Linked DNA regions of Homo sapiens: region 1 is linked to region 2. Evidence: fine-mapped expression QTL. A gene starts in region 2. The other region holds a variant in brackets. All regions are shown on one strand. Distances are from middle to middle. Region 1 has its middle 110 kb from the start of LRRC70. Region 2 holds the start of LRRC70 (leucine rich repeat containing 70).

Region 1 (5,388 bases), 110 kb before region 2:
TAAACTGCTATCACAGGAGGCTAAGGCAAATTCACCAGTAAGAATACTTTATAGGCTTAATCTACAATGGAGGAGCTTGACATCCTCTATTTACATCACCTGGTCAAATCTCTGGCATGCAAAGAGAGCACAGTACTAGTAGATATGATCTTCTTCAGCAAAGACCAGAGATGACGTCTTAATTTCATGCTGTGAGGCTGGTGGAGCCAGAGCTCCACTGCATACCTCACTGGACCATTGCTCCTGTGGTCCTGTGTTCTTAGTCATCTGAGCCAGCCCTGCAACCAAGCAGCAGAGCCAGGGGGCTCATGAAAAGAATAATCCCACAGCTCAGCATTAGCCTCAAAGCAGCAGATATGGGGACCTCTGTAACTGGCACCCTGGACTAGAAGCAAATATCTGCAATTGCCTAAAACATATAAGTGTGTGTGTGTGTGTGTCTGTGTATCAAGAACACCCTTTGCAGAGGGTAAAGAATAGGAACAAAACTGTCTTGAAAATGCTGTGTCATTAACACAGAGGTAAGAATGGAAAGCAGGCCAGGTGCAGTGGCTCACACCTGTAATCCCAACACTTTGGGAGGCTGAGGCATTTGAGGCCAGCATGGGCAACACGGCGAAACCCCATCTCTACAAAAAATACAAAAAAATACATGGTGGTGTGCACCTGTAGTCCCAGCTACTCAGAAGGCTGAGATGGGAGGACACTTAAGCCCAAGAGGCAGAGGTTGCAGCAAGCCAAGATCATGCCACTATATTCCGTCCAGCCTGACAGAGCTAGACCCTGTCTCAAAAAAAAAAAAAAAAAAAAAAAAAAAAAGAATGGAAAACAAACATATACAATGCAACCTCAACTGGCAGGATGAAACCCCAGGTTCTTGTGTTAACTCCGCTGGCTGGGCAGCCCAGGATGGGTCACTTTCACTCTCCATCTCCACACTGGTACGGGAAGAAATTGGGCTGGGAGACAGATCACTCAGGTTCTTCCAGTTCTAACTCTCTGTGACTCCTTGATTCTAGTTTGCGCTACCAGGCAAGGTTCTATGTAAAAATAGAGGTTCCTCTTCAAAGACTTTCCTCTCCATTTAATTAGGAATAAATAATAACTTCTCTTAGAAGCAAAATTTATTCAAAAACCTGTGCTAACATTCTTAAATATCTGCTAGTCGTAATAAGAAAACCAATATACTTTATGTTCTTAGCTCCCACAATTTAGCCTAAATATTTGCCCTGGCATGCTTATACTGGTCCAAGCAGGCATTAGTTCATAGCCTGTTTCTCTTCCTTATTTAAAGGTGTTTTTACCTTTCTCAGCATTCCACAAGTTACTTCCTCCTTCCTTTTTTCTCCTCTAGCTTTGCCTCTTTTAATAAGTTCTAAGTTGCTAGCCAATCGGGACAAATACAGAATGTGAGGTCCTGTTCCAGCCAATGGAAACCGGACACAGCAGAAGGGTGGACGCGTCAGGTTATAAATGACCCTGTCTCCTTTGTTCGGGGTACTCTCGTGGCAAAACTGCTGCCAAGTGTACCCTTTCTGCAGAAAATAAAAATGGCCTTGCTGAATAAATTTAAGTTCAAGTACTATTTCTTTACGGCACCGGGGAACAAGCATTTCAAACTGTTATATGTCCACTGGCATGACCTCCAAAATGACCTCTAATTTTGGCCTTCTAAAATCAGTAGGACAGCTTTTTATCTCAGAGGGTAGTCACAGTAGTTGGGCATTCCTATGTGTCAGGGCCACCTGGCAAAAATTCCAATGCAGTCTCCTTCAGGGGCAGGGGCCTGCTGTGTCCTCTCCCCTAGCACTGGACTCAGTAAGGCAGGAGGGCAAGACCCATCCAGATGCTGTCCAGGATGAGGGTGAACAAAGGGGTCAACCTCTGTCTCTTCCAATGACCACAAACCAAAGGGACTCAGAGTACCAAAAATTTTACTAACATAAATAGGAAACTTGGGGACTGAGCACACCAGAGCCACTTGGAGGTAAGAGGGCCACTCTGCATACACTTTCTGTTAGTCAAACCAAATTAAACAGCAGGAGCTCCCCAGCACTCCCCACCATGACCTGTCTACTCGAAAGTCCCGGAGCTTTGTGAAGGAGGGCGGCCTTTAAGAATGGTCAGAGGCTCTCTCACCCTCTGCTGGGGGAAGAGTGGGGCAGGCAAACCCGGCATAATCCTTAGAGAGGTCAGGAGAGATTTCTTTCTAAGGCCAGGGTCTCCTGTGGCCACTTTAGGAGTCAGGACCCGGGGCCAGGAAGACGGCAGTGGGTTTGACTTGCATACATTAGGCTCCTGCTAACTGGCAGTTTAAATAAATTGAAGTAGGACTTTAGCTTTTCCTTAGCATTTCTGCCTGAGTTTCAGCTGTTTCACCAAAAGGTGAAACAGCTATTGTGCAAAAACTTTTCTAATAAAAGCCCTGAGTCATCTGGTCTACTTTAAACTTCAGAGAAGAGTTAGTGGCTTTTACAGTTCTTTTCCATTTTGAGGAACACTCCTGAACTTTGTTTTTTATCAAGAACTGAAACCCTTTCTAATCACTTCAGCATTTAGATGTTTTTAAATCTTGCTTTAAGTAGTTTCACTTTTGATTTTTTTCAGTTATGTTTACTGGGTTATGATAAAGGATACAACTTAGGAATAGTTGAGTGGAAGAGATGTGCAGGGCACGGAAGTGGGGTTGGGGCACGGAGTCCCCATGCCCTCCCGGG[G/A]CCCCCTGGCAGCACTTCCGTGTGTTCACCAAGCCAGAAGCTGCAATTGTGAAAAAATATTTCCCCATGATTTTCCAATAGGCTTTCACCTAATAACGCAACAGATGTGGTGTTTTATGGTTCACAACCCACTTTCCAAGGAGCTATCTCATCAGATACTCATGGAGCAGGCCCGCTACCATTGCTAAAATGCAGACTCCGCCTCTGGGAGTGTTGATGGCCACACCCAACTGGCGTGGGTTTATTTTGCCCTAAAGATACATTTTTAGGACTTCAAGTCTTTTCCTGTCTCCTGAGGAAATCCTGGGATGATTTTGCCAAAAAGTCCCACACACCAGCATTTGTTTATACCTATTTCCGGGAGTTATAGCTGGAAAAGGAAGAAATATGATCATGATCAATTTTCCTCTTGTAAAAAAATTTTTTTCTTTTTTTTTTTTTTTTTGAGGCAGGGTCTTGCTCTGTCACCCAGACTGGAGTGCAGTGGTGCAATCACGGCTCACTGCAGCCTCAACCTCCCAGACTCAAGTGATCCTCCTGCCTCAACCTCCCAAATAGTGGGGAATACAAGAACACACTACCACACCCAGCTAATTATTTTTATTTTTTGTAAAGATGGGGTCTCACTATGTTGCTCAGGCTGGTCTCAAACTCCTGGGCTTGTGCAATCCTCCTGTCTCAACCTCCCAAAGTGCTGGGATTACAGGTGCTGGAATTACAGTTTCCCAAAGTGTTAGGATTACCATGCCCAGCCTGTTTCCCTTTTAACACACTCAAATAAATCTGATGCAAACTCATTATAATGGCATGGACTTGACTAGCCAAACATATAACTATGATTGTTTTCTTAAGAAGGATTTTTAAAAAGCACAAGTCAACAGAACTTCTTGAAACTTCTGTATTGTAGGTTGGTTGGGCCAGCTCTCAACCAAACTACCAAGCATCAATACCCCTCTTCAGTCTTCTACTATCTTTCAACTCTCATCTCTTCAAATAGTGGTGGTCCCTCCTGTCTACTGAGCCCTTTAAGCAGGCATTCCTATATTTCATCAAAACCTAAAAAAGAAGTGGAATAATCTGTCATTGGCTTGAAATAAAATGTCTTGGTGTGAACACGTCACTTACCTTCTTAACTCTCCCAAGTATATTTTATATTTTAAACTTATTTCTTATATTGAATGAAAGGAAGGCTTTTCTGTTGTTAATAAAATGTTAGGCATTGGGAGGCAGATGGCATATTTGGAGGGGACAGGAGAAGAGGCAAAAAGCTTCCCGGGGTCCAGGCATGGTGGCTCACACCTGAAATCCCAGCACTTTGGGAAGCCAAGGTGGGAGGATCACTTGAGTCCAGGAGTTTGAGACCAGCCTGGGCAACATAGCAAGATGTCTCTACAAAAATTAAAAATTAAAAAATTAGCTGGTCATGGTGGCATGCATGTGTAGTCCCAGCTACTCAGGAGGCTGAGGCAGGAGGATCATTTGAGCCCAGGAGTTTGAGGTTATAGTGAGCTATGATTGCACCACTGCACTCCAGCCCTCAGCCTGGGTGACAGAACAAGACCCTTTTATTTTCTAAAAGGAAAAAAAAAAAGCAAGCTTCCCAGGAACCCAGGAAGTGTTACTTGTCCAAATAATACCTTAGTGTATACATTCTGACCCAAAGTTTTAAATGAAACTTAAAAAGTGCAATGTGAAGTTGTGTCAGTTAAGATTACTGACTTCAGTTTTCTGTTCTTCAAATGTTGCCTTTGTCTGAATGCCTCTGCAGAAAGGCTTGTTGAGAAGATGCATATACATATGTATGTAGAGTATTATGTATGTGTCTCTGCATATGTGTATACATATGTGCATGAAGATGCAGCGTTTTACAACATATAAGACTTAAGCTAAATTATTATTGGAAGTAATTACCTACAGGTGAGGAACCTGAGAGGAAAGGAAAGTGTAGTGGTATGTCCAAGACTTGAGAATAAGTCCCTGTGAAATCAAAGGCAGGTCACCAATTCACAGTCCCCCAAGGCTTGTTCACATCCACCCACTCCTGGCGCCTACCCTTTAAGTTTAGCGTTTCAGAGTCTCACCAACATCCCTTAGTCTTTTTCACATGGGTCACAATTGGGGTATGTTATTATTGTATTTGACAGTTATTATTACATTAGAAAATTATTAGTTTACTGAATGAGCTACTCTTCAGCAGTCCCTAGGGAAGCACCAAGGAATACATTCAGAACTTTGAGCACATGCTCAAGTCTCTTTTCTACCCTATCTTTCTTTAATCCAGGCCCATTGTGATGGTTTTTTCTAATGTCAACTTAGTTGGACTATAGTGTCCAGTTATCCAAACACTAATGTAGGTACCGCTAGATATTCTGCAGATATAATTGAATTATCAGATAAACTGACTTTGAATAAGGGAAATTCTCTTAAATAATCTGGATGGGCCTAATCAATCAGATAAAATACCTCCAAAGCACAGCTAAGACTTCCCTGAGAAGAGAAGAAATGCTTCCTGTGTATAGTAGTCTCAATCTGTGCCTGTGAGTTCCAGCCTGCCTATGATCTTTCAATGTTGAGGATCTGTCCTATGAATTTCAGATTTGTTTAGTGAGTCCCAATTTCATAGGCCAATTCCTTGTAATAAATTGATGGATGGGGCTGGGCATGGTGGCTC
Region 2 (5,388 bases):
CTAACCTCATATAATTCATTATATTTCCAACTAAAGTATATAATTATATAAGGAGGTTTCAGTTTAAATCATGTCCATGGCACTGAAGTTTCTTATAGACAATATTTAGTTGAGTTATAAAGCAGAATGTTCAAAAAGAATGACCTGTGCCTCATTTTCAGGAACAATTTGTTTATGAAGTCGAATCTGCTCCAAGCCAGGACTTTCTAGAGAATTTGGGGAAGTGTTACAAATTGAGGCAGTTACATTATACCTTGCTGACTGATAAAAGCTGTAGTATTCAAGTCTATTTTCCCTTGAGTTTTCTGATGCCTTTAGTTTTTGTTTAAACTGAACAACTTTGTAGATCAAAAAAATGATTAAAACACAAGCTAAGATGAAAAAAGCTAGCAAAATGTCAAAAGCCTCATTCAACTTCTCAACTTCTTGTGTACAAATTAGAGATGTTTTCCCTGACATTGAAGCAGCATCATTCGGTAGAGCACTGTTTTTTTCCAAGTTCAAGGTAACAGAAGTAGTAAGTTGTATTTGCACAGGTAACACTGCTGTAGTCTCTAATGGATTACCAAAGGCATTCTCTTGAAAAAATCTACCAGCAGGTGAAGTAGGAATTCGTTCCCAGAAAGTAATGTTCTCAGTCTCAGTATTTTCCAGAGGACTGCCATTTGTGGTTACTTTATGCCAGGCCATCATTAGCGCAGTAGTCTTGTGATGAATATGAGGAGATTTTACAACAGCCCAAGCTCTGGATACATTTATTGAAGATGTAACACAATTTGTAATGTTAATATAACGTAATGCTCTGCCACGCATGGATGGGGGATTCTGACAATAGATGTTTAGAGTAATGGCTGAAGATGCTAGCCAGTCTCGAAGGCCCAAAAGTTTGCAGTTACATTCCCAAGGATTAGAATTTGCCTGAAGATGAATCAATGAAGACAACGGCTTAAGGACCCTTGGATGCAAGGCTGTAAGATTATTAAATGACAGATTAAGGATCTTCAAAGATGCTCCCATATTTTCAAATGTATCATTATCAATGCTAATTATTCTGTTTCTATCTAACTTAAGGTAAATTAAATTCTTTAACAAACTGAATGTGTCAGAATTTAAATTCTCTAAATCATTATGACTTAAGATCAAATGTTTAAGATTATTAATTCCACTAAACCCATCCCTAGTAACATTCCTAATTCTTGAATTTTTCAGGAGGAGGTATTCCAGATTGGCAAGTCCTTTAAATGCAAAGGGCTGTATTGCTTCAATAGGATTATGAGACAAAGAAAGTCTTCTAAGACTTTTAAGTACTTCAAAGGCATTTGATGGTACTTTTGTTAAATTATTACTTCCTAAATACAAACAAGCAAGGTTTTCAAGATGTTGAAAGCCTGATTCTGATATCCTCAAAATGTTATTGTTTGATAAATCAAGTATCCGAAGAGCAACCATACCAACAAAGGTACCACTCCCAAGGACAGTGAGGCGATTCCTTTGTAGATTTAAGTACTGAACTGAAACTAGATCATTAAATACTCCTCTCGGAACAAAAGATACCTGATTATACTGTAAATATAAATTACGAAGATTTAAAAGTCCCTTAAATATTCCAGGATCTAAGCGTTTGATGAAATTATTATTTAGAAATAGAAAATATAGATGCCTCAATTGAACAAAGGCTTTTGGATATACATACAGAATGTTAGAATTATCCAAATACAATGCTACAAGAGAATGAAGTCCTGTTAATTCACTTTCATTTATATAAGATATATTATTCCCAGTCAGATACAGAAAAACTGTACTTTCAGGAAAATTCTTAGGAATACTCGAAAGGCCTAAGTTACGGCAGTTAATTTGTCTCCCAGTGCAGAGCTGACAAACAGACGAACATCCAAGTATTTCTTTGTGGAGTAATAATAAAAGATAACAGGTAACAACCAGAAACAGTCGTAGGCAAGGCAGAGAAAACTGTAATCCACACATATCCCTGTTCTTGGATTTTCTGTTCAGATCAGAATTGGCTATAAAAAGAGAAGGTAAAGCTTTAAATCACGAAAACTTCATCAAATGAATTTTTTTTATAATACTATAACTTCTGTATTCTATTTTAATTAGGATCAGCCAATAATACTATCATAAATCATACCATGGTAATAGCAAAAAATAATGAGTATGGAATACGTTCTAGAATTATTAACATGATCAGGCCATTAACCCACTATTTGACAAAATAGTTCAGATTAATGAAACATTTGCTAAGTTAACTTAAAAATTACAATTGATTACAACACAGGTGACAAATGATGTAGGAATGAGAATCTTTGAATTTAATATGTCCCTTTAACAACATAAAGTCTAATATCAAATAACATTATAATTTATGAAAATACAAATTCACTACAGAACAATTAAATTCTAAATTACAGTTTTTCACAGAACTATTTTTCATGTCAGCTAGAAGTTCATATTTAAGTAAATAATCTTACCAAGAAAAGGAAATTCGTATTATTAACACTCAGCTGATTCAGTAAAGGTTTTCTTTTTAAATCTGAAGAACGACATTTCTTAACTCCAGTTTGTTCTGTGGCACTGCTGACCTCCACCCCACCACTTTTTTTTTTTTTTTTTTAAGTCACCGTTTGCTCAGGAAACACCACTCTTCACATTGGTTCCTTTACAGTCAATGTGTAAAACAGAGGTTGCCATGGATACAGGAAGCTAAGAGACAGGAAGTAATTTTATCTGTGTTTCAAAAGTATTGCTGAACGGAAATCTCAGGAACTTATTTTTTCAGAATGCAGTTAGAGTTTTCCTAATATACACATTGAAATATCTCCTATAATATAAAAATAATAGTTTTTAAAGGATACTTGAAAACATTAGTTATTCAGAACCCAAATATCAATCAACAGACTCTAGCTATCAAACAACATAGCTACTGAATGGAAAAGGCTAGTTCAAATAAGATGTATATCGAGTAATACAATTTTTTGTAAACTTTTTAATGAATAAAATATTTATGTTGTGTTAAATACGCATTGAAGACTTAAACTTTATGCTTTATTCCTTTAATAAAAATAGGGGAAAAAATTTAGAATGAACATAAATGTTGTTATATTATCCTCCAGTGCTCTTTTTAAAATTTTCAAAATATTTTTGGTTGCAAAAAATACTGAGTACTACTTAATACGTGAGGTACTAATTGGTAGTAAGCTACTAATTAGTAGTAACGCACTAATTGGTTGTGTTGGGTTATAAGATGTTAAGAAGCTGCATACCAACTTACTGACATAGGTTATCTTTGCAAGAAAAATTGGGGAGAGTAAAAGAGGCGATGTTTCGCCCTATATATATCTGTATCAGTTTGAATCTTTTAGAACAAAAATGGAGAATTTTTTAACGTCATTTTTCAAGAATTTAAAGAATCGGATATAAATTGTTTATATTATATATTGTTCAGTCATTAACTTTCTTTCATTAACTTTAAGCTAGTTGCTTAAGCTTTCTAATTCTGACTTTTATTAATATTACTAATAGCCTGATAATATTCCTAAAATATCAAGTTATATAATTGTATACAACTCTCCTTTGATATTAAAGCAGTTTCATTTCACATCAACAATTACTTTAGAAATAATATGAATTATGTCCATATTAGAAAGCTGAAATAATACCTAGCATTATCTTTCTATGACTAAAAATTCAGCAATGCATACTGGATAGCAGATCGTTATCAAAATGACTTATGATTCTTACACCTATCCATTATGGCTGGTTACTGTTATTGCTATTTTATGCATTAAAAATGGAAAACAAAACAAGTGACAGAAATGATATGAATTTGAGGTAGGGGCTATGTTTCTCAGGTCCATTTTGTTTAGTACTTCCAATAATATACAAGGTGATATGAAGCTTGTCCCATGGATTTTTCAATTTCTTGGGAAAAATTCAGAGAAAGGGTCCTTTGAAATAAAAATAAAATTAAAGAGAAAAAACCCACAAAGTAATATAACCAGAGTATGAATTAATTTTGTTCTTTATGCCAAAAATATCCAAAGCAGTAAAGAACACTTATTAGGATGCAAAGGTAAAATTTTTAGGAAACTGTATTAAGGAAAAATGACAAAATAAAATCTCACTTCTCACATTCTAAAAACTGAAGGAAACTAAACTGACTTCAACAAAACAAGCAAATATAAATAGTACACTGTAACTCTCAGGTTGAATGGTTTAAAAAAAAATTCCTATCTCCAGCAAAACAAAGTTTAGTCTTTCTGTTCATTTAGGAGTTGCTGTTCTTAGAGACAACTGATCAACAATGATTCCTCATTATCCTTTTCTGATTACTAATGTTCATTACAACTATTACTGAACACTACGCTCAACCTCTTAAATTAGTCTTCTATTTCTTTCCAGGAAATTGACTCATTGAGCTGTTTTCCTCTCATTCTTGTTGCTGAACCTTCTTTTACACTGCCTTTGTCTTCAAATCATCTCATGCTTCTGGTATTAATACACAACTATTCTCTTTTCCATTCAGATTCTCCCCATACAAAAACAAGAATGTATAAATAACAGAGCAATTGTTCCATTAGCTCTTTTAAATATACATCATCTGTATGGATGCATGTATTCTTTTGAGACACAGTCTTGCTCTGTCGGCTGGGTTGGAGTGCAACAATGTGAGTACAGCTCACCACAGCATCGACCTCCCAGTCTCAAGTGATCCTCTTCCCTCAGCCTCTTGAGTAGCTAGGACTGCAGGTGCATGCCACCATGCTTTTTCTTATTTTTGTAAAGACGGAGTCTTGCCATTCTGCTCAGGCTGGTCTTGAACTAGTAGGTTCAAGTAATCCTCCCACCTTGGCCTCCCAAAGTGCTGGGATTACAGGTGTGAGCCACTGCGTCCAGCCTATATGTATTTAGATATATACCATCTATATATAAACCAATCAAGATTGGTTTACATATAAAGAATGGCTTATAATAACAGCAGTTACTGATTTTATGGACCTTAAAAGTCACTGATGGAACTAAAATCAAGAGAATGAAAATGTGAAATGGGATTTGCAATTAAAAATAATCCAGCTCTTCCTGCCATCATGAAGCCTGTCGAGGCCTGCTTGGAACATGACTTCTAAAAGGCAAGTATTTCTGGAAGGCTGTCATCCAAGGCCATTTTTGCGCTATAAGCAGGGTCTCTGGAACCAAAGGGAGCACACAAATCTTCTTAAAACTGAAGGTGTTTATGCCCAAGATGAAACTGAATTCTATTTGGGCAATAAATGTGCTTACGCACACAAAGCAAAGAACAACAAGTGACTCCTGGCAGCAAACCAAACAAAATCAGAGTATTCTAGAGAAAGGTAACTTGGGCCCAAGGAAACA

The links. PIP is the estimated chance that this variant, and not a neighbour inherited with it, causes the effect. A credible set is the group of variants that fine-mapping cannot tell apart.
Region 1: its variant is the best candidate, but not a certain one, in a credible set for the expression of LRRC70 in whole blood (TOPMed, PIP 0.77).

Annotation. Positions count from the first base shown.
Region 1 is chr5:62,687,324-62,692,711 of GRCh38, reverse strand. No RefSeq gene overlaps it. Among named protein-coding and RNA genes, the nearest start is that of LRRC70, 110 kb to the right of the region's middle. The variant G/A (reference allele first, on the strand shown) is at 2,718.
Region 2 is chr5:62,576,034-62,581,421 of GRCh38, reverse strand. It overlaps LRRC70 (leucine rich repeat containing 70), which reads right to left and starts at 2,603. Exons shown (of 2, transcript NM_181506.5): 1 at 2,487-2,603; 2 at 1-2,021. The coding sequence starts at 1,983. The coding sequence ends at 115. All of the region lies in intron 27 of IPO11 (importin 11), which reads right to left. IPO11-LRRC70 (IPO11-LRRC70 readthrough) reads right to left here and starts at 2,687. Exons shown (of 4, transcript NR_073584.1): 1 at 2,487-2,687. It also overlaps the pseudogene RPL35AP14.